Linked DNA regions of Homo sapiens: all the other regions are linked to region 3. Evidence: fine-mapped expression QTL. A gene starts in region 3. Each other region holds a variant in brackets. All regions are shown on one strand. Distances are from middle to middle.

Region 1 (8,009 bases), 500 kb before region 3:
CATCTGGCCCCAACTGCTCCACTGCCACACTACAGCCAGAGAAGGACTCACCTTAGGCAGAGGTCGACACTGTGGAGGGCAGTGTGGTGACCCCTAAGAAACCTGGACCCTTGGGGGAGGGGGGAGGGAAAGCATTAGGAGATATACCTAATGTAAATGACGAGTTAATGGGTGCAGCACACCAACATGGCACATGTATACATATGTAACAAACCTGCACGTTGTACACATGTACCCTAGAACTTAAATTAAAAAAAAAAGAAACCTGGACCCTTGATGACCCTGAAGAATTGCTAGATTGGCTAACCGTGAAGGCCACTCTGTCCCAGGACTGCCCATCCTGCAGCCAACACATTTCCTTACTGTGAATCCACTTTGAGCTGGGGGGGCATTGTTACGTGCAGCCACAAGTATCCTCAGAAAGAGGTACTCAGAAAGTTCTCCCTGACTGAATGCCATGGGTTAGTGGCCATGGGCTGAGAGCCACCAAGCATACCCCCCACAAACCTTACCACCCACACTGGTTCCTTCCTCCCCACTGTAACAGACATTCAAAGACTGGATGCTTTTTTTGAAAAACCACAGCAGTCACTTTATTCTTAAGTTTGCACTTTACAAAACCACAAGGGAGAAGTCCTTGAAGGGGAGACAGGGGTAGGGGATTAGGGAGTGGGGGATGGTAAAGAGGGGAAGAGGAAGACCCAGAAACGAAGTCCCCTCCAACCCCATCTCGGGGACCAAGCAGAGACTAGGCCTCAGGCTAGCCCAGCAGGGCTTCCTGTGTCCTGGTTGTACAGAGCTAGGCCAAAAGACCTCAGGGGAAGGGCCACGGCCCTCTAGAGACTGCCGCCATTTGAGGGACAGCCACAGGCCAATGTTTCCTGTGCCCAAAGAAGGAAGTGGGCCTCCCTTCCCCTCCCCTAGGCCAGATAATCAGCCTGAGGCAGGGGTGAGGGCTACCCATCCAGCAGCTTCAGGATGCTCTCACGCTCCTTCAGAGTCTTCCAGGCCTGGTCCTTTTCTTTCTTGGTGGGAGTCCGCTTCTTCTGCCGGGCAGCCATGATCTTGCGAAAGGCGTCCATGACCTCGTTGTCAGCCATGCGCACCCGCTGCCTCAGCTCCTGCCGGCTCACCTCCTCCTTTGCCAGCCTGTGGGGACCAGCCAGCCAGGTGCCAGGGTCAGCCCACCTCCAGAGAACAACCCCTCCCTCTTCAAGACCGAGCCTACCCACCAGCCCAGGCTGGCATGCCTGTGGATTGTGTCATACAGTCGTGACCAAAAAGCAGTTACTGACCTACACTTACATGGCACTATCTTAAGCTCCTGAAAAATATTAACTCATGTTGATCACGGGGGAGGCTGTGCACATGTGGGGACAGGGAGATACGGGAATTCTCTGTACCTTTCTCTCAATTTTGTTGTGAACTTAAAACTGCTCTAGAAGAATAAAGTCTTGGCTGCACATGGGGGTTCACATCTGCAGTCCCAGCACTTTGGGAGCCCAAGGCAGAAGGATCACTTGAGCCCAGGAGTTCGAGACCAGTCTGAGCAACATAGTGAGACTGTCTCTACAAAAAATTTAAAAAATTAGCTGGGTGTGGTAGTGCACACCTGTAGTCCCAACTCCAAGGGAGCTGAGGATTGCTTGAGGCCAGGAGTTCAAGGTTACAGTGAACTATGATCATGCCACTACACTCCAGTCTGGGCAACAGAGCGTGACTGTGTCTTCAAAAAAAAAAAGGTCTTAAAAATATACACAGTAGGCTGGGCAAAGTAGCTCATGCCTGTAATCCCAGCGCTTTGGGAGATGGAGGCAGGAAGATCACTTGAAGCCAGGAGTTGAGACCAACCTCGGCAACAGAGTAAGACCCTGTCTCTAAAATATATATATATATACATACACACACACAAACACACACACACAGGCACACCCACTCTCTCTCTCTGTCTTTCAGTTAATCCTAACAACCCTGCAAAATATGTACTATTATTCATATGTTACCCGTGAGGAAAATGAGGCTCAAAGATGATCCCAGGATCCCACAGTTAGTGAGGGGGAGATCTGGAGCAGGCTGGGGCCAAACTCTTGTTTTTAAACACTGTTGTTTCAGGTGTTCCGGTGCCAGCAGAAGGCCTGCTTACGTCGGCATCTGCATTCCAGAGCCCCCTAAGGTCTAGGCAGCCTGAGGCTGACAGGAGGTGGGTGAGACACCAGATCAATCTCTCTGAACAGGGTCTGATTTATACATTTCATCGATGGTGGAGCTGGAAGGTCACTTAGTGATTGAGTCCAGCCTGCCAGTTTTCCAGAAGGGGAAGGAGATGCTCAGGTCAGGGGCTGCTTAAGGCCTTGCAGCTGCTCTGCAGCAGGGTAAGGGCTGTGCTCTGGTTTCCTGAGAGCTGCAAGCCATTTCTTCATTGCCCATTACTTCTTTTTTTTTTTTTTTTTTTTTTTTTGAGACAGGTCTCACTCTGTCACCCAGGCTGGAGTACAGTGGCCTGATCAAGCTCACTGCAGCCTCTACCTCCCAGGATCAAGCAATCCTCCCACATCAGCCTCCTGAGTAGGACTATAGGCATGTGCCACCATGCCTAGCTGATTTTTAAAAATTTTTAGTAGAGAAGGGGGTCTGACTACATTGCCCAGGCTAGTTTCGAACTCCTGAGCTCAAACAAGCCTCCCACCTCAGTCTCCCAAAGTGCTGGGATTACAGGCATGAGCCACCAGGCCCAGCTAGGGCCCACTACTTCTGTAACTGCACATGCCTGCTTTTCTCTCTCTTCCTCTCTCTCCCTCTGCTTCCCTCAGTGCCTCTTCCATCTGTGTTTTCTTCTTCTCACCTTTCAGAGAAAACAAACTATTATAGAAAGAGGCTTTGATTCAACCACAGGTTCAAGTCTCAGCTTGCTGTTTATTGACTGTGTGACCTTCAGCAGAGCATTTCGCTTCACTGGGCCTTTATTTCCTCATCTGGTAAACAACGAAAATAGCTCCTCCCTCCTGGGTTGTTGTCAAGACACTTGAGAGAGTGTACATAAAGCCCCTGACACACAGTAGGCCCTCAGCATACATTAGTCACTCTTATCCTTAAATACCCTGGCAGCTTGTCAGCAACTACCTCTCCTTTTAATGGCACTTATCTTTACTGATCATCTGCTAGTAATCTGCAAGTCCCTTGCTCTGCCTCTCTTGCTGGCCCCCAGCACAATATCTAAGAGACAGTAAGAATGGCCAAATGATTAGCCTGGCATGGTAGTGCATGCCTGTAATCCCAACTACTCAGGAGGCTGAGGCAGGAGAACTGCCTGAACCCGGGAGGCGGAGGTTGCAGTGAGCCGAGATCATGGCACTGCACTCCAGCCTGGGCAACAGAGTGAGACACCGTCT[C/CA]AAAAAAAAAAAAAAAAGGCCAAATGAATGAATGTGCCCTGTCCTGTCAGGGCTCTATGAAGTTAAGACACAGCACTTGTCTGTGAGAAGCAAAGAGACTTGTTCGGGTTGCTTCCCTATCTCTTTACCTAAAGGGTAGCTATTCCACAGTCTTCCTCAAGATGTCACCTATACCCTCGTGATCAATGCAGAACAAGATGGATGGGAGTTGACATCAAATGAATGGCAGGCACTGTGATGGATTCCCAAAAGAACATGTCCTAAAACACTGGTCAATTTCTTGTGATGAGCAAATAAAAATCACAGATCTCCAACAAAATGTTAACAGTTAATTAGTCTAGGTGGAGAATATACTGATGTTTATTGTATGATTCTTTCAGATTTTCTGTGTGTATCAAATTTTTAATAACAAAACTTTGGGGATAAAAAGAAAAGAAGCATGAAAAGACAAAAAATAAATCACACAACAATGTGAATATGGGTAACACTACTAAACTGTACACTTAAAAATGGTTAAGAAGCGTAAATTTTTTTTCTTTTTTTTTTTGAGATGCAGTTTCACTCTTGTTGCCCAGGCTGGAATGCAATGGTGCAGTCTCAGCTCACTGCAACCTCCGCCTCCCAGGTTCAACTGATTCTCCTGCCTCAGCCTCCCATGGAGATACATTTTATATTATGCCTTTACCATAATTAAAAAACCAAACTAGGCCAGGCGCAGTGGCTCACGCCTGTAATCCCGGCACTTTGGGAGGCCGAGGCGGGTGGATCACGAGGTCAGGAGATCGAGACCATCCTGGCTAACACGGTGAAACCCCGTCTCTACTAAAAATACAAAAAAATTAGCTGGGCGTGGTGGTGGGTGCCTGTAGTATCAGCTACTCAGGAGGCTGAGGCAGGAGAATGGCATGAACCTGGGAGGCGGAGCTTGCAGTGAGCCGAGATCATGCCACTGCACTCCAGCCTGGGTGACAGTGCGAGACTCCCTCTCAAAAAAAAACAAAACAAAAACAAATCAAATCAATCGGTCAGTCACAGATGCCTGAGCCCCACTCTGTGGAATCAGAATTTGTTTGGGACATACCCGGTGGACTGGCCACTGCTGTTTTTTTCGAGGCTCTCCAGGTGATTTAGAGGCCAGCCAGGATTGGAAAGCCTGTTGTAAAACCCCTGAAAGGTGACTAGCCGTGGCCACAGCCTCCAAGGCCACCCCCGGGACTGTGCATCCTGCTAACGCTCACCTCAGCAGGTCGTGCTTCTTGGTGCGGTTGTGGGCACTAAGTGCCTTCAGCTCAGCCTGCCGTTTGCGAAGCTCAGCAAGGACCTCATCCTCGGAGTCCTCTGCGGGGCGGTCCTCAGACTCCAAAAGGCCCTGGGCAATTAGCTCCTCCTTGATGCGGCTCTCCAGGGACTTAGTATGCGGCACACTGCAGCGGGAGGCAGGCCCGTCAGACTCAAGAGCCAGCTTGGAGAAGGGCCCACCTTGGAGGTTCCCAGGGCTTCCCAAGGTCAGTGAAAACCTGCCTTTCCCTTTGGGCACCCCCTCTGTATCTATCCAGATACAAAGGGAGGGACAGACACATCTGGTCTGGTTTTTAAAACAAGCAACGTATGTATCTACTATTCAAAAAATATGGAAAAACCCATAATGCCAACAACCCAGAGAGAATTACTATTATTTTGTTATATATTATTATATATATTCCAGATTTTGTTATATATTATTCCTAATCTTTTGCTACATATTAGTCCAGGTTTTTTCCCTTATGTGCACATATTTAAATATATTGTAAGTAAGCCAGGCATGGTGGCTCACACCTGTAATCCCAGCACTTTGGAAGGCCGAGGTGGGAGGATCACCTGAGGTCAGGAGTTCAAGACCAGCCCGGCCAAGATGGTGAAACCCCGTCTCTACTAAAAATACAAAAATGAGCCATACATGGTGGCAGGCGCCTGTAATCACAGCTACTTGGTGGCTGAGGCAGGAGAATCGCTTGAACCTGGGAGGCGGAGGTTGCAGTGAGCCAAGATTGCGCCATTGCGCTCCAACCTAAACGACAAGAGCGAGACTCCATCTCAAAAAAAAAAAAAGAAAAAGAAAAAAAGAAATATATTTTAAGTAAAAATAGTATTATACCATCCATACTGGGCTACAACTAATATTTTCTCCACTTGTCACTCTATAATTTACATCTTTTCATGTCATTTAACTATATTTCTCTATACTTGCAGCTATATGATTAATAGCCCCAAGTTATTTCATCATATGGAGTTATGCCAATTTAGCCAACCATTCCCCTTCAGCAGGACATTTGGGTTATTTATGGTATGAACAGTTCTGTGCTGAACAACCCTGCACTCAGTCTGTGCATGCAGACACGCTGGGTCATCACTCACACTTGAGACTGCTATTAGGCTTCACCTAACTGCCCCCAGCCTCTTACTGATGAGGACTTCCCCAGGTTGAGATGGAGAGAAGCCAACAGAAGCGGGGGCCAGACTGTGGGTTGTGGATAGGACACCACTCACCTGAAGGGCTTGTTCTGATTGCGAGGGGAGGTGCTTGCCCCGTCAGCCCCTGATTCTTTCCCAGACATGTCAGGAATAGGAGAATCCTCCATAGGGGAAATAATATTTTCCTAGAAGACCACAAAAATGAGTGGAAGGAAAAATAGCTGTTCCACTTTCCTGCTCCTTTCTGACCTACACTGACAGTCTTCAAACACCAGAAATATCCTTTTATCTTTCCCATCCCACCTACCGTGGGAAGCCTTCCCATACCAATCCCAAATTGCTTTGATCATTCTAGAAATCCCTTTTATTTTCGTACTGATGTGAAGAAAAAGGAACACAGAAGAGAAATGATTAACACTCAATGATGGTAATGAACAGCTAAGGTTTGTGAAGCGTCTGCAACGCACCAGGCAGTGTGCTAGGCCTGCTGTGGCGGAGATGCTAGCTGTCCGAATGCCATACTCTTCTTTCCTCCACGGCAGCTAGGCAATGCCTGTCCAGTTGTACTTCCCAGGCTCTCTTGCAGGCGGGTATGGTCATGTGACAAGTTCTCTCCAGGGGAAAGTGATCAGAAGAGATAAGAGCCATAGCTAGGCATGGGCCAAAAAGTTTCCTTCACACACTCCTCCTTGTTTTGTTTTGTTTTTTTTTTTTGAGATGGAGTCTCACTTTGTCACCCAGGCTGTGGAGTGCAGTGGCACAATTTCGGCTTACTGCAAGCTCCGCCTCCTGGGTTCATGCCATTCTCCTGCCTCAGCCTCCCAAGTAGTTGGGACTACAGGCGCCTGCCACTATGCCCGGCTAATTTTTTTGTATTTTTAGTAGAGACGGGGTTTCATCATGTTAGCCAGGATGGTCTCGATCTCCTGACCTTGTGATCCGCCCGCCTCAGCCTCCCAAAGTGCTGGGATTACAGGCGTGAGCCACCGCGCCCGGCCTCCTTGCTCTTATTCTGTGGGACTGGAGTGACAATTACGCCCAGAGTGACCTTGTGCAGACTGCAAGGCCACCGTCAGCTGGGGTCCCTGTCTGATGATATGAGATAGAGACCTGCCCCTTCCCCTACCTTAGATAACCTGCAACATGTACCCAGACTGTTCCATGAGATAAACTCTTGTGTTTGAGCCAGAATAGAAAACTGAGTCTCAATGAGGTGAAAGAGTGTGAGGGTGTGTCTAAGGTCAACCAGCAGGTATAAAGACAGGGCCCCTGAAGCTAGGGTTTGAATCCTGGTGTGTGAGACCTCAAGTGAACAGTTCCCTTTTCTGAGCCTCAATCTTCTTATCTGTAACACAGCGTTAACCACTGTCCTGGCCTCCAGTGGGAGGATGTGTATAAAGCCCCTCCAACAGATGCTTAGCAAAAGTAATTGTGGAGTAAGGCTACCTTTGGGGAAAGTTGGAGAAAAACAGGGGCATGAGAGGGGCTTCTAGGATATAGTAATGTTTCATTTTGTAATCTCCAGGCTGGTAATACAAGCTCATTTGTGAAAACTGTACATTTATGATCTGTGCACTTTTCTATTAGGTGCACAAGTTATATATTATTCCCAATCTTTTGCTATATATTAGTCCAGGTTTTTACTTTTGCACCAACCTATTTTTGCACCAACCTAATAAATGTATGATAAATTCCGATAAAAAATAAGCATAACACATTAAAACACAAAGTAAATATGGTTCCTCTTTTGGGTTAGGCTGCTCACCTCCACCAGGGCCTGCAGGAGGCGCTGCGTCAGGGCACCAAAGGGGCATCCATCTTCCGGCTGTTCATGCTGGGCCTCAGACTTCTTCAGCAGGGCATCCACATCTAAGCGGGCACAGGAAAGGAGGGGAGGTGGGCTGAAGTTCTGGAATTCAAGTCCTGACCTGGGGTTGGCAGGGAGGTGAGAGGCCTACCTTTAGTGTCCAGTTCGGTCAGTGGCCCCATGAGGCCTTTCTTCTTGTCAGCCACAGCCGCTGCCCGGGCCCCATCCTTCTGCTCCTCCAGCAGGTCCTCCTGGGCCCAGCGCTGGGAGTAGTGCTTCCCCAGGGGTGGGATCTGTGGAAAAGATGGCACCCAACCCTGAGTGGGTAAGCACTGGCCAGCCATGCTTCATTCATTCATTCA
Region 2 (8,011 bases), 20 kb before region 3:
GCTCACTGCAAGCTCCGCCTCCCGGGTTCACGCCATTCTCCTGCCTCACCCTCCCGAGTAGCTGGGACTACAGGCGCCCGCCACCACGCACGGCTAATTTTTTGTATTTTTAGTAGAGACGGGGTTTCACTGTGTTAGCCAGGATGGTCTCGATGGGCCCGCCTCGGCCTCCCAAAGTGCTGGGATTACAGACATTAGCCACCGCGCCCAGCTAGGTTTATGATTGTTTTAAGTTTTATTTTCCTTTGGCCCTTGATTCAGGATAATGATTAAAAAAAAATATGATGTGCTCTTCGGAAAAAAATTTCAAATGATACAAGAAGCTTATAATATAAGCACCTAAGCCTTTGTTTGTTTGTTTGTTTGAGACAGAGTCTCATTCTCTCACCCAGGCTGGAGTGCAGTGGCATGATCTCGGCTTACTGCATCCTCCGCCTCCTGGGTTCAAGTGATTCTCCTGCCTCAGCCTCTTGAGTAGCTGGGACTATAGGCATGTGCCACCACGCCTGGCTAATTTTTGTAATTTTATTTTTATTTTGCTTCTTTTTTTTTTTTTTGAGACAGAGTTTTGCTCTTGTTGCCTGGGCTGGAGGGCAGTGGCACGATCTTGCCTCACTGCAACCTCTGCCTTCCGATTCAAGCGATTCTTTGCCTCAGCCTCCTGAGTAAGTGGGATTACAGGTGCCCGCCACCATGCCTGGCTTAAGTTTTGTATTTTCAGTAGACACAGTGTTTTGCCATGTTGGCCAGGCTGGTCTCGAACTCCTGATGTCAGGTGATCCACTTGCCTCGGCCTCCCAAAGTGCTGGGATTACAGGTGTGAGGCACTGCTCCCAGCCGAGCCTAAGTCTCTTTCTACTTCCCTGCATTCCCCAAAGAGATCCATTATAAACAGTTTAGCTTTTTAGACTTGTTTGCGAATATATACATATAAAGCAATTTTGCCTTTTTTTTTTTGAGATAGGGTCTCACTGTATTGCCTAGGCTGGAGTGCAGTGGTGCCGTCACGGCTCACTGAAACCTCTGCCTCCCAGGTTCAAGCGATTCTTGTGCCTTAGCCTCCCGTGTAGCTGGGATCACAGGCGTGTGCCACCATGGCCCAGCTAATTTTTGTAATTTTTAGTAGAGACAGAGTTTTGACACCTTGCCCAAGCTGGTCTTGAACTCCTGAGCCTAAGTGATCTTCCTGTCTTGGCCTCCCAAAGTGTTGGGATTACAGGCATGAGCCACCGCGCCCCGTGTGTTTTATAGAGATGGGGTTTCGCCATGTTGGCCAGGCTTGTCTCGACCTCCTGGGTTCAAGCAGTCCACCTGCCTCGGCTTCCCAAAGTGCTGGATTACAGGCATGAGCCACTGTACCTGGTCTGTATTTACTTTTGAGAGGAATTTAATAGAAATGACTTAGGAATGCAAATGGGATAATGGTTTACTGCTTATGGAATGGCCTTAGGAGGACATTTGTGGAGAGTTCTTACACCCGGCAGGGATTAGACTGGATTAGAATTTCACATCAAAATAGTCTGGCAAACAAAGTCTAGCTTTTTCTGTGTGGAGTCCTGGAGTGAGTGGGTGCAAGAGGGGGCTGAGGCTTCACTTCCGTCTTGGAGGAGGTTTGTTGTTGGGAGCAGTCTATCTTGACTGACCCTGGTGCAGTCACTGAGAAACTGAGGTATTTTCCAAAACCAAGTTGATTATTTGAGGGGAAGTGTTTGCAGAGAACTTTCAGGAGGCTTTGGGTATGGTGGGAAAAACACTGCACTCAGAACTGGGGGATTGGAGTTCCTGGGGCTAGCCCTTCCCCTCACTGGGTCCTCAGGTTTCCTTTACCCTTAGATATGGGATTGGGCTAGCTGGTTTCTAGGGCCCTTTCCAGTGGGAAGAGCTTGAGCTGCTGTTTTGCCTGAAGTGTAGTCCTTGCCTTCCAGGAGCTTGCAGTCTGGTTTAATGAGAGTGTTCATTTCAGCTCCTTCCGTCCCCTTGCAGTGAAAGGATATCATCTGCTGAGCATGAGAAGGCGAATGCTAAGAAATGGCAGCAATCAGCCCCTCTTACAGTGCCACTTCACCACCCGGAGAGAACCTTTGCCTTAGCCACAGTCACTTTCCCTTTGACTGGTAGAACCACCACTGATTTATAATTTGCCAAATGCTTCATGTACGAAAGTGCCCTTGGAACAGCCCTTTCAATTCTGTTTTTTTTTTCCCAGGTTGATTCCAAAGATAGTTCTCATAACTCCACAAACTCTGAATTTGCAGCTGAAGCTGAGGGTCAGAATGATACAATTGAGGAACCCAACAAGGTCCAGAAAAGGAAGAGGGATAGACTTCGAGACCAGGGCTCCACAATGATCTACCTGAAGGCTATCCAGGGCATCCTGGGGAAATCGATGCCAAAAAGGAAGGGAGAGGCTGCCACTCGGGCAAAACCAAGCGCAGCAGAGCATCCCAGCCATGGAGAAGGACCAGCCAGGAGTGAAGGACCAGCCAAGACTGCAGAAGGAGCAGCCAGGAGTGTCACAGTCACTGCTGCTCAGAAGGAGAAAGACGCAACCCCAGAGGTCAGCATGGAGGAGGATAAGACAGTGCCAGAGAGGAGCAGCTTCTATGACAGGAGAGTAGTTATAGACCCTCAAGAGAAACCCAGTGAGGAGCCCCTTGGGGACCGAAGGACTGTCATTGACAAATGCTCTCCACCCCTAGAGTTCTTGGATGACTCTGACTCTCATTTAGAAATCCAAAAGGTGAGTAAAGCTTGTACCAGGCATCTGACTTTTTAGTTCTGTTGATGAAATGTGTTCCATCTTTCTAGTTTGATCCTAAGTGTTACTAATTAAAAATAGTACTTTACTTAACCAGGCCTCCAGGGAACAAACTGATGGTTTTCTTCTAACATACTTTTCAGATTTTCAGAGTTATTAATAAACCTAAACTAAGTGCTTTTTTTTTTTTTTGAAGGATTTATATGTTAGGATATGGGTTTAGCTGCTGTGTAAAAGGCCAAAATCACAGTGGCTTAAACAGAATATAAGTTTGGCTTAAGAAGGATGGCTCCATCATGTCAGAGATACTGGTACCTTTTGTCTTGATTCTCTATCACCCCTCAACACAGTGTCCATCTCTTGGTGTGAAATGGATACTCTGATAGGACTCAGGGTTTGTTATCTGGGCATTCTGGCCAGTGGGAAGGGGAGAAGAGGAGAGTGCATTCCTTCCCT[G/T]TTAAGAGCTTGGCTCAAGAGTTGCACATGTTGTATCTGCTGTTGACAAGAGCGGGGAAACCCGGCTGACACCTGGCTGCAAGGGAGTCTGGAAAATCAGCCTTTATCTAGGCAGACTTGTACCTGGATAACCAGAGAAGAAGGGAAGGATGTCATTGGACGGAAACTAGTGATTTTTAACATAGCTTATAATTGAGGGGAAGCATTCCTCCATCTTTTTCTTTTTTTTTTTTTTTTTGTTGTTGGGACAGAGTCTTGCTCTGTTGCCCAGGCTGGAGTGCGATGGTGCAATCTTGGCTCACTGCAACCTCCACCTCCTGGGTTCAAGCAATTCTCCTGCCTCAGCCTCCTGAGTAGCTGGGATTACAGGTGTGCGCCACCAAACCGGCTAATTTTTGTATTTTTAGTAGATATGGGATTTCTCCATGTTGGCCAGGCTGGTCTCGAACTCCTGACCTCGTGATCCACCTGCCTTGGCCTCCCAAAGTGCCGGGATTACAGGCATGAGCCACTGTGCCAGGCCACATTCCTCCATCTTACTCGTCTCCACCCATCCTTTACTACTGCTCTGCAGGCAGCTTCTCTCATCTTTAGCTCTTTCTTCTAGTACTTACCCCATGTTTCTAAATAATCTTTACTGTTGATCAGTTTTTCAGTTTTAGATGTCTGAGGACTTCTTGCTTGGGCGATGAGAATTTAGTTCTCTATACCTCCTTCAGAAGCACCCACACCCAGGGACACATTAGCTTCCCCTTTCTGCAGCCTCCCTGTGTGGCTTGAATACCTTTTGGGTTAAGTCTGTGTAAGATTTGTTACTGCCATGTTCACAGCTGAGTCGCCTTGTATACTCTGATCACATTTTCTTTCTTGTAAAACTTCATTTTCCTTAAAGTTCATCATTACTTTGTTTTTCCTTTGGTTTTCCTGGTACCTTTCACTAATTAATCCCCAAACTGCGAGAGCTGTAAAATCCTTCTCAATACTGTCAAAATAAGGAATCTGTTTCTTTTTTTTCTCTCTTGGAGGTATACGTCCTCAGCCCTCTGTTGTCCTGCTCTGGTCTGGACTGCCTGCCGTCAGGCCAGCTGGCAGCTGTCTCTCTGGAGCCTCCTTCACATTTCTCCCGGATTGAGTCTTCTGCTACCTATACTCTGTGTCTTCTCATGTTCTTCTTCCTTGGTTTACTCTCACATTTTGGTGGAATACTTTTTCTAGTAGCTTCTTGAGAAAGGGTACATGGAGAAACTTTTTTTGGTAAACATGTGTCTGAGATTGCCTTTATTTTACCTTTAACCTTGATTACAAGCTTGGTTGGTTTTGGAATTCCAGGTTGGAAATTGTTTTGTTTGGGATTTTGAAGGCATTGCTCCTTTTCTTCTGGGCTTTTTTTTTTTTTTTTTTTTTTTTGAGGTGGAGTCTCGTTCTGTCTTGCCCAGGCTGGAGTGCACTGGTGTGATCTTGGCTCACTGCAGCCTCCACTTCCTGGGTTCAAGTGATTCTCCTGTCTCAGCCTCCCGAGTAGCTGGGATTACAGGCACACGCCACCACACCTGGCTAATTTTGTATTTTTGGTAGAGACAGAGTTTCATCATGTTGGCCAGGCTGGTCTCAAACTTCTGACCTGAGGTGATCCACCTGCCTAGGCTTCCCAAAGTACTGAGATTACAGGTGTAAGCCACTTCGCCTGGCCTCTTCTGGTTTTCTTGATGTCTGAAGCTATGCTGGTTCCTGAACCTTGGTATATGATTTTTTATTTTTTATTTTCTTTTGCTTTGAGACAGAGTTTTGCTCTGTCACCCAGGTTGGAGTCCAGTGGCGTGATCTCAGCTCACTGCAATCTTCACCTCCCAGGTTCAAGCGATTCTCCTGCCTCAGCCTTGTGAGTAGCTGGGATTACAGGCATGTGCCACCACACCCGGCTAATTTTTGTATTTTTAGTAGAGATGGGGTTTCACCATTTTGGTGAGGCTGGTGTCGAACTCCTGACCTCATGATCCGCCCGGCTCAGCCTCCCAAAGTGCTGGGATTACAGGTGTGAGCCACCGTGCCCAACCTGTATTTTTTTTTTTTTTCCCTCTGTGGAATCTTGTAGAATATATTTTGATCTCAGGGCTCTGAAATTTCATGGTGGTGGTGTCTACTTTGCTTAGCATGGGACATTCCCTTTCAATCTAGAAACCCTTGTACTTTAGCTGTGGGAAAAGTTCGTGAATTACTGTACTTCGCTGATGTTTTCTTTCCGTATTTTTCTTCTCTCTTTCTCTCTCTAGCTTCTCTACCTTCTTTCTCTTATTTGGATGTTGGATTTTTCAGGACTGGTCCTGTAATTTTATTGCCTTTCTCCCTTGTTTCTAGCCAATTTCTTGCTTTACTTTGTAGGATATTTCCTTTTCTTTATCTTCCAACCCAGCTGTTTATTTAGTTTTACTTTTCTACTGTCATGCTTTTTATTATCCAAGAGCTCTTTTGTTTTTTAATAACATCTCTGTTCTTGTTTCATCTTCTGTTATCTCTTTTAGGGAGTTCATGGTAGTTTTTTGGCTTGGTTTTAGTTTTCTTTAAGTTGCTTCTTTCCGTTTCTTTTGATCTCTTCTGTGTTAGAGGCTGCCTTCACATGTCTGGTAATCTTTGGTTGTCTGTTTATGATCAAGAATGGGAGGATTAAAAAGCTGTTTGGAAGCTCTGAGCGTAAAGACTTTGAGCTTTGCTTTGGGATGATCGGGAGAATATAACCCTCTTCCCCTTGCCATGTCACTGCTTTTAGGAAAGCCTCGAGACTGGTCACCTTGCCCAGAGGAGTGTTTTTCAGCCTGCTTAGGAGGAAAGGTGGCTGGGAGCTGGGTAGCGAAAGGGGCGGCTGCGGGGGCGGCGTCAGCATTCACTTAATCTTTGTCTTTTTGGTGCAGTACCAGTGCCCTCCACTGAGCTGACCAGGCCTTATTCTAGAGATCCTCTTGTTTTACTGTCTTCAAACAACTCACCTTCTCTGAGTATGAGGAGGGAATCTGGGATCTAACTCATTGGAAACCAGATTTCACCCTGTCCTCCTCCTTTTAATGTTCTTCTGTAACTCCAGTTCCTCCAGTTCCCAAGGTGCCCAGTACCGCGAGTGCCTGCTCTGTTCTAAGCTTTCCTGGTGCCTAGCTTAGGTCTCAGCCTTCTCTTGGTCTGCCAGTGAGGTGTTATTTGGCCATCTGCTTTCTAGCCTCCAGTGCGTGATCACTGTAGTCTCTTGTTCTTCCTGTTCTGGTGTTTTTGTTATTGTAGAGGGGTTTTATTTGTTTTTTGTTTGGTTTTTAGATTCTTTAGTTTTAGTGAGGTTTCAGGAAAGAGTAAAATAAGTCGAATTTGTTCAGTACATCCTTAGCCTAGAAAAGTTCTGGGAAAATTTCTTGATTATTTGATTTCTTGTCTGTTTCTTCTTTTTCTGGACCATCTATTTTATGCTTGGTCTTTCGGATGGAAATTCCAATTTTCTTTTCTTCCCAGTGAATCCTTTTTAAAAAATTTTTCTGGATGGTTTCTTCAACTTTATCTTCTTTTTTTTTTTTTGAGATAGAGTCTCACTCTGCCACCCAGGCTGGAGTGCAATGGCTTGGTCTTGGTTCACTGCAACCCCTGCCTCCCAGGTTCAAGCGATTCTCCCGCCTCAGACCCCTGAATTGCTGGGACTATAGGCGCATGCCACCATGCCTGTCTAATTTTTGTATTTTTAGAAGGGACGGGGTTTCATTTTGGCCAGGCTGGTCTCGAACTCCTGACCTCAGGTGATCTATCCGCCTCGGCCTCCCAAAGTGCTGGGATTACAGGCGTGAGCCACCGCGCCTGGCTCAAGTTTATCTTCTAACGTTTATGTTGATTTTTTTTTTTTGGTCTTTTTTTTTTTTTTCCTGTGCGTGGTTTTTTTTTTTTTTTATTGCTGCCAATTTTTTTTTCTTTTTTGTCTTTTTGAGACAGAGTCTCACTCTGTGGCCCAGGCTGAAATACAGTGGTGTGATCTCAGCTCACTGCCACCTCTGCCTCCTGGGTTCAAGCAATTCTCCTGTTTCAGCCTCCTGAGCAGCTGGGATTACAGGCATGGACCACCATGCCTGGCTAATTTTTGTATGTTTAGCAGAGACAGGATTTCACCATGCTGGTCAGGCTGGTCTTGAACTCCTGACCTCAGGTGATCCACCTGCCTCGGCCTCCCAAAGTGCTAGGATTACAGGCATGAGCTACCACGCCCGGCCAGAACTTTAAAAATTAAAAATTTTAGCTGGGCGTGGGGCTCATGCCTGTAATCCCAGCACTTTGGGAGGCTGAGGCAGGTGGATCATGAAGTCAGGAGATCGAGACCATCCTGGCTAACACGGTGAAACCCCGTCTCTACTAAAAATCCAAAAAAATTAGCCAGGTATGGTGGCGTGCACCTGTAGTCCCAGGTGCTGGGGAGGCTGAGGCAGGATAATGGCGTGAACCTGAGAGGTGGAGCTTGCAGTGAGCTGAGATTGCACCACTGCACTCCAGCCTGGGCAACAGAGCAAGACTCCGTCTCAAAAAAAAAAAAAAAAAAAAAAAAGTTTTTGTCATCCAGGTTGGAGTGCAGTGGCATGGTCATAGCTCATTGCACCTTTATTTTTCTGTGGTCCCCTTGGTTTAACTTTTCCAAGCATCAACTTTTGTCCTTTGCTGGGTGGGGAAAGGGCAGGCCATCTGCACAGGGTGGGAGCAGGGGTCTGGAGATCTTGACAGACTTCAGCTAATTCCTATTTTCATCTGCGGCTTCACCCTCACTTTGGAAGTCTGGCACCTCCA
Region 3 (8,011 bases):
ATCCACCTGTAGTTCGACTCCCCAGTATTTTGTTAGATTTCCTTTCAGTTCATTTGACTACTTGGGCATAGTTTTTATATGCTGTCGTTGTCATCATAGGGGCCACAGTTGTTGATTTTGCTCCTCTTCAGTGTTAGAAGCATTTCCTATCCCAGTGTGTTCTCTGTGGTGGTCATCTCAGGGGACTGCAGAGCACTCTGTGGTGTGCGTGGTATCTCTGAGTGATCTCTGATCACTCACCAAGTGCCATCTCGGGGCTTCCTGTGTTGGAGCCAGCCCTTGTCTGTGTTTACTGTGGAGTCCTTCCCTAGGATGCAGTCTTTCCATTTCTGGGAATCATTGAAAAGGGGTGATGGGTGTGGGGGGAGCTGGGGGCTGCTGCAGAGGGGACTGTGAGCAGCCCTGATGTGGAGTTCTGTCTCCAGGCATTGCTTCACCGGCAGCTACCCGGTCATTGAGCCCCTGCTGAAGTACTTTCCCAACATGTCTGTGGGCTTCACGGCAGTGCTGACATACTCCTCTGCCTGGGAGGCCCGGGAAGCCTTGAGGCAGATCCCACTGGAGAGAATCATCGTGGAAACGGATGCTCCCTATTTCCTCCCTCGCCAGGTAAGGGGGTCTTCAGGCTGAGTGGAGGCACCGGAGGGAGAGGGTGGGGAGGTGGGTGGTCACCCTTACAAGGTTGGCAGGGCCAGAGCCCCAGTGACTTCCAGGTCCCATCCTGGGCTGTGTAGATGCCTCCTTGCTGTTACTCTGCAGAACCAAAAGTCTAGGGGGCTGAGAAGCTGAAGGGTAACCACTCTCTTCCAGGCAGTGCAAAGCCCTACCCTGTAGAGGGTAGTCCAAGGAAGCGTGGGACCCTGCTCACCCAGAGCCCCCATGACTAGGACTCTCCCTGCACCTGCAGGTAAAGGGGTCTCTACAGGGCAGCCCCAAAGAGGTCCTTGCTGGGGAAGGGACAGGGAGGGAGTTCTAGATTATGACTGTGCACACATGGCACAATGATGTTATGACCACTTGATGTCTTCCAGGTTCCCAAAAGCCTTTGCCAGTATGCCCACCCGGGCCTGGCCTTGCATACGGTCCGAGAGATTGCCAGAGTCAAAGATCAGCCACTCTCCCTCACCTTGGCTGCCTTGCGTGAGAACACCAGTCGCCTCTACAGTCTTTAAGCAGAGAAGGTACAGTCCTCGGGAGTCTCCTAGAAAAGGTCGTAAAACTCACATTCTGTATTTTTTAAAAACCAGGACAAGTCTTTTGTTGCATTTTGTTAATGTAAAGAATATAAACATAGTATGAGCATTAAGCCTGATTTGTTTTGAGTGACATGGTTTGGAACCTTCTTCTTTTTCTCTTCCACCCTCCAGGGCGACCAGCAGCCTGACAGAACACAGGCTGGCTTGAAGTCTGTGTCTCAGGTCGAGGATGTGTTTAGAGAGCTGATTGGAACACAGAAAACCAGGACAGGATGTTTTCCTCCAAGCGGGTCATAAGGCTTCAGCTTCTGGGTGGTGGGTGGGGTGGGGTGGGCATGGAATGAGGGGTATGGGGACTGCCTGTAATAGCACTGGGATTTTGCCTCCCAGCCAAAATGCTCCAGGGTAGGCAGCAAAGAAGAAAGAGTGCGATATGAGGGTACAGTGAGTTTGGCAGTCCAAATTCTGTTCTCTGCAGCCTGTTTTTGAGTAGTTGGTGAATAAAGTCACCCGCCTACTTGTCTAAGCACATGTGGGTGTGTAACTCAGTTCCTGGTTCTCGGTTCTAAAAACAGACTTCCAACTGGGAAACTTTTTGGGGGAAATTAACTGGACACCTATCTCGGAGGTTTATTTTCTTGCAACCAGTGAAGTCGTCCTCCTCCCTTCCCTGGATAACTCTTCAGTTTGACTGTCACTGTTCTGGTGTCAACTCCAGCGTCGGCACAGGCAGAAGGACTTCAGCTGCTGGTCTCATTGGTTCCACTGCCATTGATATGGGGGGGTGCAGAGGAGCACTCATTGTCCATGATGGAGATCCAGGACAGACTGGGGGACTCCGGGAAGAGGCTTTCTTGGGGAAGAGGACCCCAAAGGAGGTACTTCCTCCTCACTGATGCCCTCAGGGCTGCTGTGTGGGTGTGTTAAGCTGATAAGGTTCAGTTTGCGGCGGAAACTACCTGCTAGTCTTGTGTCAGGGGCTGCCAGCCTCCTTTTGTTTCACTTTTGCCCCCTTCTTGGGAACATTTGACCAAAAATAATCCTCATTTCATCTTGTGTACAGTCCTTTGTGTACCCCGCCCAGGTTGAGAGGTGAATCAGCGTAATTCTCCGAAGCTCTGCTGGGCAGCTCAGCCATGTTACATTGTCTATGCAGAATAAGCAGGCCTGGTGTCTGCAAATGTACCAGTCCTTCTCCCGCATCTCCTGGGTGCCCCCTTGGCTTTGCCTCTCCTGTGTCCTGTCTTTCTGCGTTTTAGAAGTGAGAGCCTCTCCTTCACCTTTTGAGCAACTGAGTCATCTCAAGTCCTGAGCTCTGCTCTGCCGCCTGCTGGTGCCTTGTAAAGGTATACTCGTTACAGGCCCTAGAGGTTCTAATGGTCCAGGGTTAAGTGAGAGGAGACTGTACTTTGTTTCAAAGGATCCTTCACCCTGATCTGCAGTGAGGTGGATAGATCACCTGGAGTCCCTCGTCTGTGGTCTTGGAGGCTTAAATTGTAAAATACATCCCTTATGGAATCCTAAATTCCTCTAGGTGTTTTTGGAAGGCGCATTTGAGCCTTGTGAGCTAAAATGGAATGGATTTAATATTTCCTATCTGGCATTTCCATCTTGCCCCTGGTACACAAGTCACTGGCCTGGAACTCAGCCTTGATTCACTGTCCGTCTTCACGGATTAGCTGTGCTGTTATGTTGTCTGTGCTGCAGATTGGCCCATGTGGGAAGTCGGGGGGGACCTGATTTCCTGCTTGGAAGACTTGGGGGACTGCCGAGCATATCAAAGTGTTTATAGTCACCAAGTGAACTGCAGCACAACCATCTCCTCTCCAGCAAGCCCTGAAGTCAGTAGTGCCTGCAGGTGAAACCAACCAGCCCTGTGTTAGAGGAGGAAAAGCGGAGATGACATGGAAGTCTCCAAGCCTGTGCCATCCACCTGCCAAGGAAAAGCACAAGGTGCTATCTACTTTTCTCTCTAGGATTTAGATTATCATTTATGTGCTGTTGCACAGTGAAACCTCACCTGTGTGGGCGTGAAAGCTGATTGGCATTGTTTTTGATTCAGCTTTTTGGATGGCTAATTGTTTTCACTGTGCTGTGGGAATGCCTCTGTATTTTTTCCCCTCTTTGGCCATCTTTTTCTGAAAATAAAGTGATGGATCCTCTAGCCAACCCAGTCTCTCCGTGTTTGTATAGACTTACCTGAGTGATGCAGTGGTTTAGTCTGGTTGTTGGCCAGCATTGTAACCCAAGAATCCAGGTAGCTGGAGACTTTTTTTCTTTCTTTTTTTTTTTTTTTTGAGAAGGAGTCTTGCTCTTTTGCCCAGGCCAGACTGCAGTGGCACTATCTCGGCTCACTGCAAGCTCCGCCTCCTGGGTTCACGCCATTCTCATGCCTCAGCCTCCCAAGTAGCTGGGATTACAGGTGCCTGCCACCGTGCCCGGCTAATTTTTTGTATTTTTAGTAGAGACGGGGTTTCACCGTGTTAACCAAGATGGTCTCGATCTCCTGACCTCGTGATCCACCTGCCTCGGCCTCCCAAAGTGCTAGGATTACAGGCGTGAGCCACCGCGCCCGGCCAGCTGGAGACTTTCTTGAGTATCTATGTGGCTCTCTGTAAAATTAAACTGCATATAAGAATTCTTAAAGTTCGGCCGGGCATGGTGGCTCACTTCTGTAATCCCAGCACTTTGGGAGGCCAGGGCGGACAGATCACTTGAGGTTAGGAGTTCGAGACCAAGCTGGCCAACATGGTGAAACCCTATTTCTACTAAAAATACAAAAACTAGCTGGGTGGGGTGGCACGCGCCTGTAGTCCCAGCTATTCGGGAGGCTTAAGCTGAAGAATCACTTGAACCCGGGAGGTGGAGGTTGCAGTGAGCCAAGATCGCAGCACTGTACCCCAGCCTGGGTGACAGAGCGAGACTCTGTCTTTCCCCTCCCCCCGCCTCCCCCCAGAAAAGAATTCTTAAAGTTCTACAGCCTTAGAGTGTTAAGTAATTTTACTGTCTGGGAACTCAGATGCACTGCTTCTTTCTGACCTATGTAGGTACTTTCTTTTCTTTTTTTTTTGTTTTTTTTTTGTTTCCAGCTCAAGGCTGTAGGAGGAAGAAAAATCTAGTCCCTGGGGGTACTGATGAATCAGTTGGATGGTGGGCGTTGGACTGTGAATTCCTGATGCCTCTGGGTAAACTCTGGAGGAAATTCTGTTTCATTACTTGCACTCAGCCCTCCTATTTTGTACTAAGGTATTCTTGAATACAAGTGCACCGGCCAAAAAAGTAAACTTACGCATAAAAAGAAAGGCTCTCTTCCTTCCAAGAATGCTGAACACCTTTGAAGTCTCTGTTGCTGCCTCATCTTTTAGATACAATCATTGATTATGTATTTTTGGCATCGTCCTGAACTTTGTTTCATTTCCTTCACAGTTGAATGTGCAGTTGGCTTTGTCCACTCAGTGATGGTCCTTGTGACTGTTCTTGGCTTTTCTGTTGTTTTTCCATCTTTCTATAGGAAGCTTGAGACCGATACTCATCGTTTGCTTTCAGCACCTTAATTTTGCTTTGTTCATTTTTGTAAAGTAAGGGCAAATGGCCACCGGAATGTACAGTGATTAAAGAAGCAAACTCTGTCAAAGATGGTGATTAGTGGCCAGCCAGTCCCTCTCAGGATCACTGTATTAAAAAGTGCTCATTTGCCAGTGACATTTTTTTTTGGTTTTGGTTTTTTTTTTTTTTTTTTTTTTTGAGACTGAGTGTCACTCTGTCGCCCAGGCTGGAATGCAGTGGCCTGATCTCAGCTCACTGCAACCTCCACCTCCCAGGTTCAAGTGATTCTCGTGCCTCAGCCTTCTGAGTAGCTGGGACTACAGGCGCCCAATACCATGACTGGCTAATTTTTTTTTTTTTAAATTTTAAGTAGAGATGAGATTTTGCCATGTTGGCCTGTTTGGCCTTATACTCCTCATCTCAGGTGATCCACCTGCCTCGGCCCCCCAAATGCCAGTGACATTTGTAGGTGGATTCAGATTAAGGTGGGTAGCTTAGTTGAGGCGTCTCAACCCTTTTCTGTGCACTCTCTCAAGATGATTTCTGAACACACAACTATAAGTGCATGAGAACTTAAATACGTGTGCTCTTATGCTAATTATACACAAAGTAAAAGTTTTTTCACAAGGAGAATTTTTTTCTCCAGCAAATAGCTCGCTCACCCTAGGGGTACATACACCCCACTTTAGAGACCCTCAAGTTACAGTGGTATCATTAAACGATCCATAAAGGAGTGGGTTTAAGAAAGCTGATACAGGAACATGTTTGAAATAATACATTTTCTCAAGGGTGTCCTCCAACCATTTTCTTTGATAAATTATATTTCTGCCCATTGTTGACTTGAAATTGTCCTCACCCCTCTACCAAGTTCACCCAGTGTATTCTGAAGGAAAATGAATGAATATGGAAACCTCTCTCATCCTAGGCAGTAGAGCGAGGGAAGCTGCACTGGCTGAGAGGCTGTGGAACCGGATGAAAAAGCAGCCCCTGAGTCCTGTGGCGTTGGCTGTGAGTCGGCCACGTGCTTGCTGTGTGCTTTAGGAAAGTTACTTAATTTCTCTGAGCTTTAGTTTTCTCCCTCATAAGTAGGCTTGCTGTGAAAATGAAGTGAAATCACATTAATCTGCATGAGCATTTAACACGGTGCCTGGTGTACATCAGGGGTGTGACAGTGAGTGCTGGCTGCTGTAGTAATTGAATGCTTAGCTACGTGCCGGGCCCTTTGCCAGCTACAGCTCATGTGAGACCTCATGTTCAGTCTTGGCAGTAACCCAGCAAGGTAGGCATTTTACATGTGAGGAGCCTGAGAAATTCAGTCTTGGCCTGGATCACAGAGCTGGTATCCAAATTCAGGTCCGAGGCCAAAGCCCAGATCTTTGCACTACACCTTGTTGCCTGGCACAGGTGAGAGTGCCCAGCCCATAGTGGGTGCGCAATATCTGTTTCTATTTGAATGACCCAGGCAGGCGGTTAATAATGCTTGTGATTTCTTTGAGAGAGAAGTAAGTTCTTGTCTTTGGTGGGGGAAGCATCAGGTGACCAGCATTTGTCCAGAGCCTGGTACCCATCCTCTCCCAAGCCCAATCAGTGGTGCTTTCTCAAAAAGAAACCATCTCCTGACCACTTTGGCCATATTGGGCCTTTGCTCCTCTTCTGTAGCTATTGATAAGAGGGCTGTGGGCAGTTAGTGATAATCAAGGTCGTATCCCAACTAAGTGACAGAGCTGAGACAGTTAAGTTCCAGGACAAGTGTGTTGATCTCTGTACCCACTTGTGCCAGGTGCCTGGGGAGGTAGGGGCATGGCTGTCTGAGGGTGGAGGGGTGAGTAGGGGGCCTGCAGTGTGCTGTGACGCCTGGGAAGGGGATTCTAAGCCATTTCCCATCAGCCGTTTACTAAGTAGCCTGGGGATCTTGTTAAAATGCAGATCCTGATAGATTAGGGCTGGGGTGCTGCCCAAGATTCTACATTTCTAAGAGTCCCTGGATGACGGTGGCATTCACAGACCACAGCTTCTATGTGAGGGAGAGCAGTTGGGTTTCTGTCTGCCTGCCGCACCTGATCAGTAGTTAGTGCCTGCATGTGTGGCGGCCAGAATTTTACTTGGGGAGACGCTCGGCTCCTAGCACCCTCTGTGGTAGGGGTTTTCCAGAGTGTGGGCATTACCCCAACTGTCTCTGCAGACGGCTTCCTGCATGTTTCCCACAAGCGCTCAGATGGCTGAATTGGCAAGTCTGTGGTGCTGCTCTTTGGGGCCACCTCGTTCTTTGCCTTTCCCTCCCCTTAGCGATGTGTCCCATCCGTTGCCTACAGTCAAGTCAGTCCACATGTTTAGGCTAAGGTGGGCATGACCGAGTGGCCTTCCCCCGGGAAGACCAGTGTCGTAACTGGAATTAAGTTGTGGAACATAAGAGTCAAGGCTCGTGTCTGCTGTGAACTGGAGTTGAGGGAATGTTTGGGGATCCCACCTGGTATCAGTAAGGGAACCATGGCGACGGCCAGCCTTGCCCATGTGAGGCATTTGCTTTGTCAGGCCTTCTCAGTAGTGGAGAAGGGAGGAAGGAGAATGCAGCTCTTTCAGTGCTGTCTAGCAGTGCCCAAGAGCCGTGATTGGGCACCTCACTTAACGTCTAACTTCAGATTCACTCTTGGGCATTCCTGTCTTCCTCTCCAATCTTGAATGGATGTTGGCTTCGATAATGTCATCCTGAAGTTTCTTTGTCCACACAGCCCTGGCTGGTTGTTAATAAGCTGTTAATGCAGCCTTGCACTCAGGAAGCCCTGATGTTTAAAGGAACTGTGTCTTTGTTCTTCCTCTCTTCCCTCTTTCTCTTAGTCCCACTTTATCTCTTCTTTCTCTTCCTCTCCCTCCTCCTTTTCCCCTCTCCCTCCTACTCTCCCCCTTTCTCTCCTCCTTCTCTAAGAAACCCAGTCTTAATTCCACACAATGCATGCACATGCAGTAGCTTCTCTGCTTGAGTGAGCTGGTGTGATTAGGTTTTCTAAACATGCACATTGGCCTTGCTACTTGTCCTTTTATTCCCTTCCCACAGACCATAAACCAAGAATTATTTTTATTTGTATTATTTTGATTTTTTTAAAGTAAAATATTAACTTTTCCTCTTTGAAATAAATTCCCATTTGGAACATCAGCATACAGTTTGAACATTTATTCGCCTCCTGAGCTTGTACAACAGTCGTGGGAGTTGCTGCAGAAGCAAGCGAAAAGCCAGATGAGCGCTTCTAAACTTAGAGAGAGGTGAGTAAGGC

What was found. PIP is the estimated chance that this variant, and not a neighbour inherited with it, causes the effect. A credible set is the group of variants that fine-mapping cannot tell apart.
Region 1: its variant is the best candidate, but not a certain one, in a credible set for the expression of GHRLOS in memory regulatory T cells (Schmiedel 2018, PIP 0.84).
Region 2: its variant is the best candidate, but not a certain one, in a credible set for the expression of GHRLOS in prefrontal cortex (GTEx, PIP 0.73).

The regions. Positions count from the first base shown.
Region 1 is chr3:9,779,401-9,787,409 of GRCh38, forward strand. It overlaps TADA3 (transcriptional adaptor 3), which reads right to left. Exons shown (of 9, transcript NM_006354.5): 5 at 7,799-7,940; 6 at 7,606-7,709; 7 at 5,916-6,025; 8 at 4,628-4,813; 9 at 567-1,149. The coding sequence ends at 957. It also overlaps a transcript of OGG1 not described here. Among named protein-coding and RNA genes, the nearest start is that of TADA3, 9.1 kb to the right of the region's middle. RefSeq lists a silencer at 3,513-3,562. The variant C/CA (reference allele first, on the strand shown) is at 3,390.
Region 2 is chr3:10,257,931-10,265,941 of GRCh38, forward strand. It overlaps TATDN2 (TatD DNase domain containing 2), which reads left to right. Exons shown (of 8, transcript NM_014760.4): 3 at 2,207-2,740. Among named protein-coding and RNA genes, the nearest start is that of TATDN2, 13 kb to the left of the region's middle. RefSeq lists a silencer at 6,005-6,194. The variant G/T (reference allele first, on the strand shown) is at 3,215.
Region 3 is chr3:10,277,854-10,285,864 of GRCh38, forward strand. It overlaps GHRLOS (ghrelin opposite strand/antisense RNA), which reads left to right and starts at 3,099. Exons shown (of 6, transcript NR_073568.1): 1 at 3,099-3,149; 2 at 5,668-5,750; 3 at 7,895-8,000. It overlaps TATDN2 (TatD DNase domain containing 2), which reads left to right. Exons shown (of 8, transcript NM_014760.4): 6 at 426-609; 7 at 1,032-1,210; 8 at 1,368-3,365. The coding sequence ends at 1,172. GHRL (ghrelin and obestatin prepropeptide) reads right to left here. Exons shown (of 6, transcript NM_016362.5): 6 at 7,813-8,011. MIR12127 (microRNA 12127) reads left to right here and starts at 2,498; the gene lies at 2,498-2,599. It also overlaps LINC00852.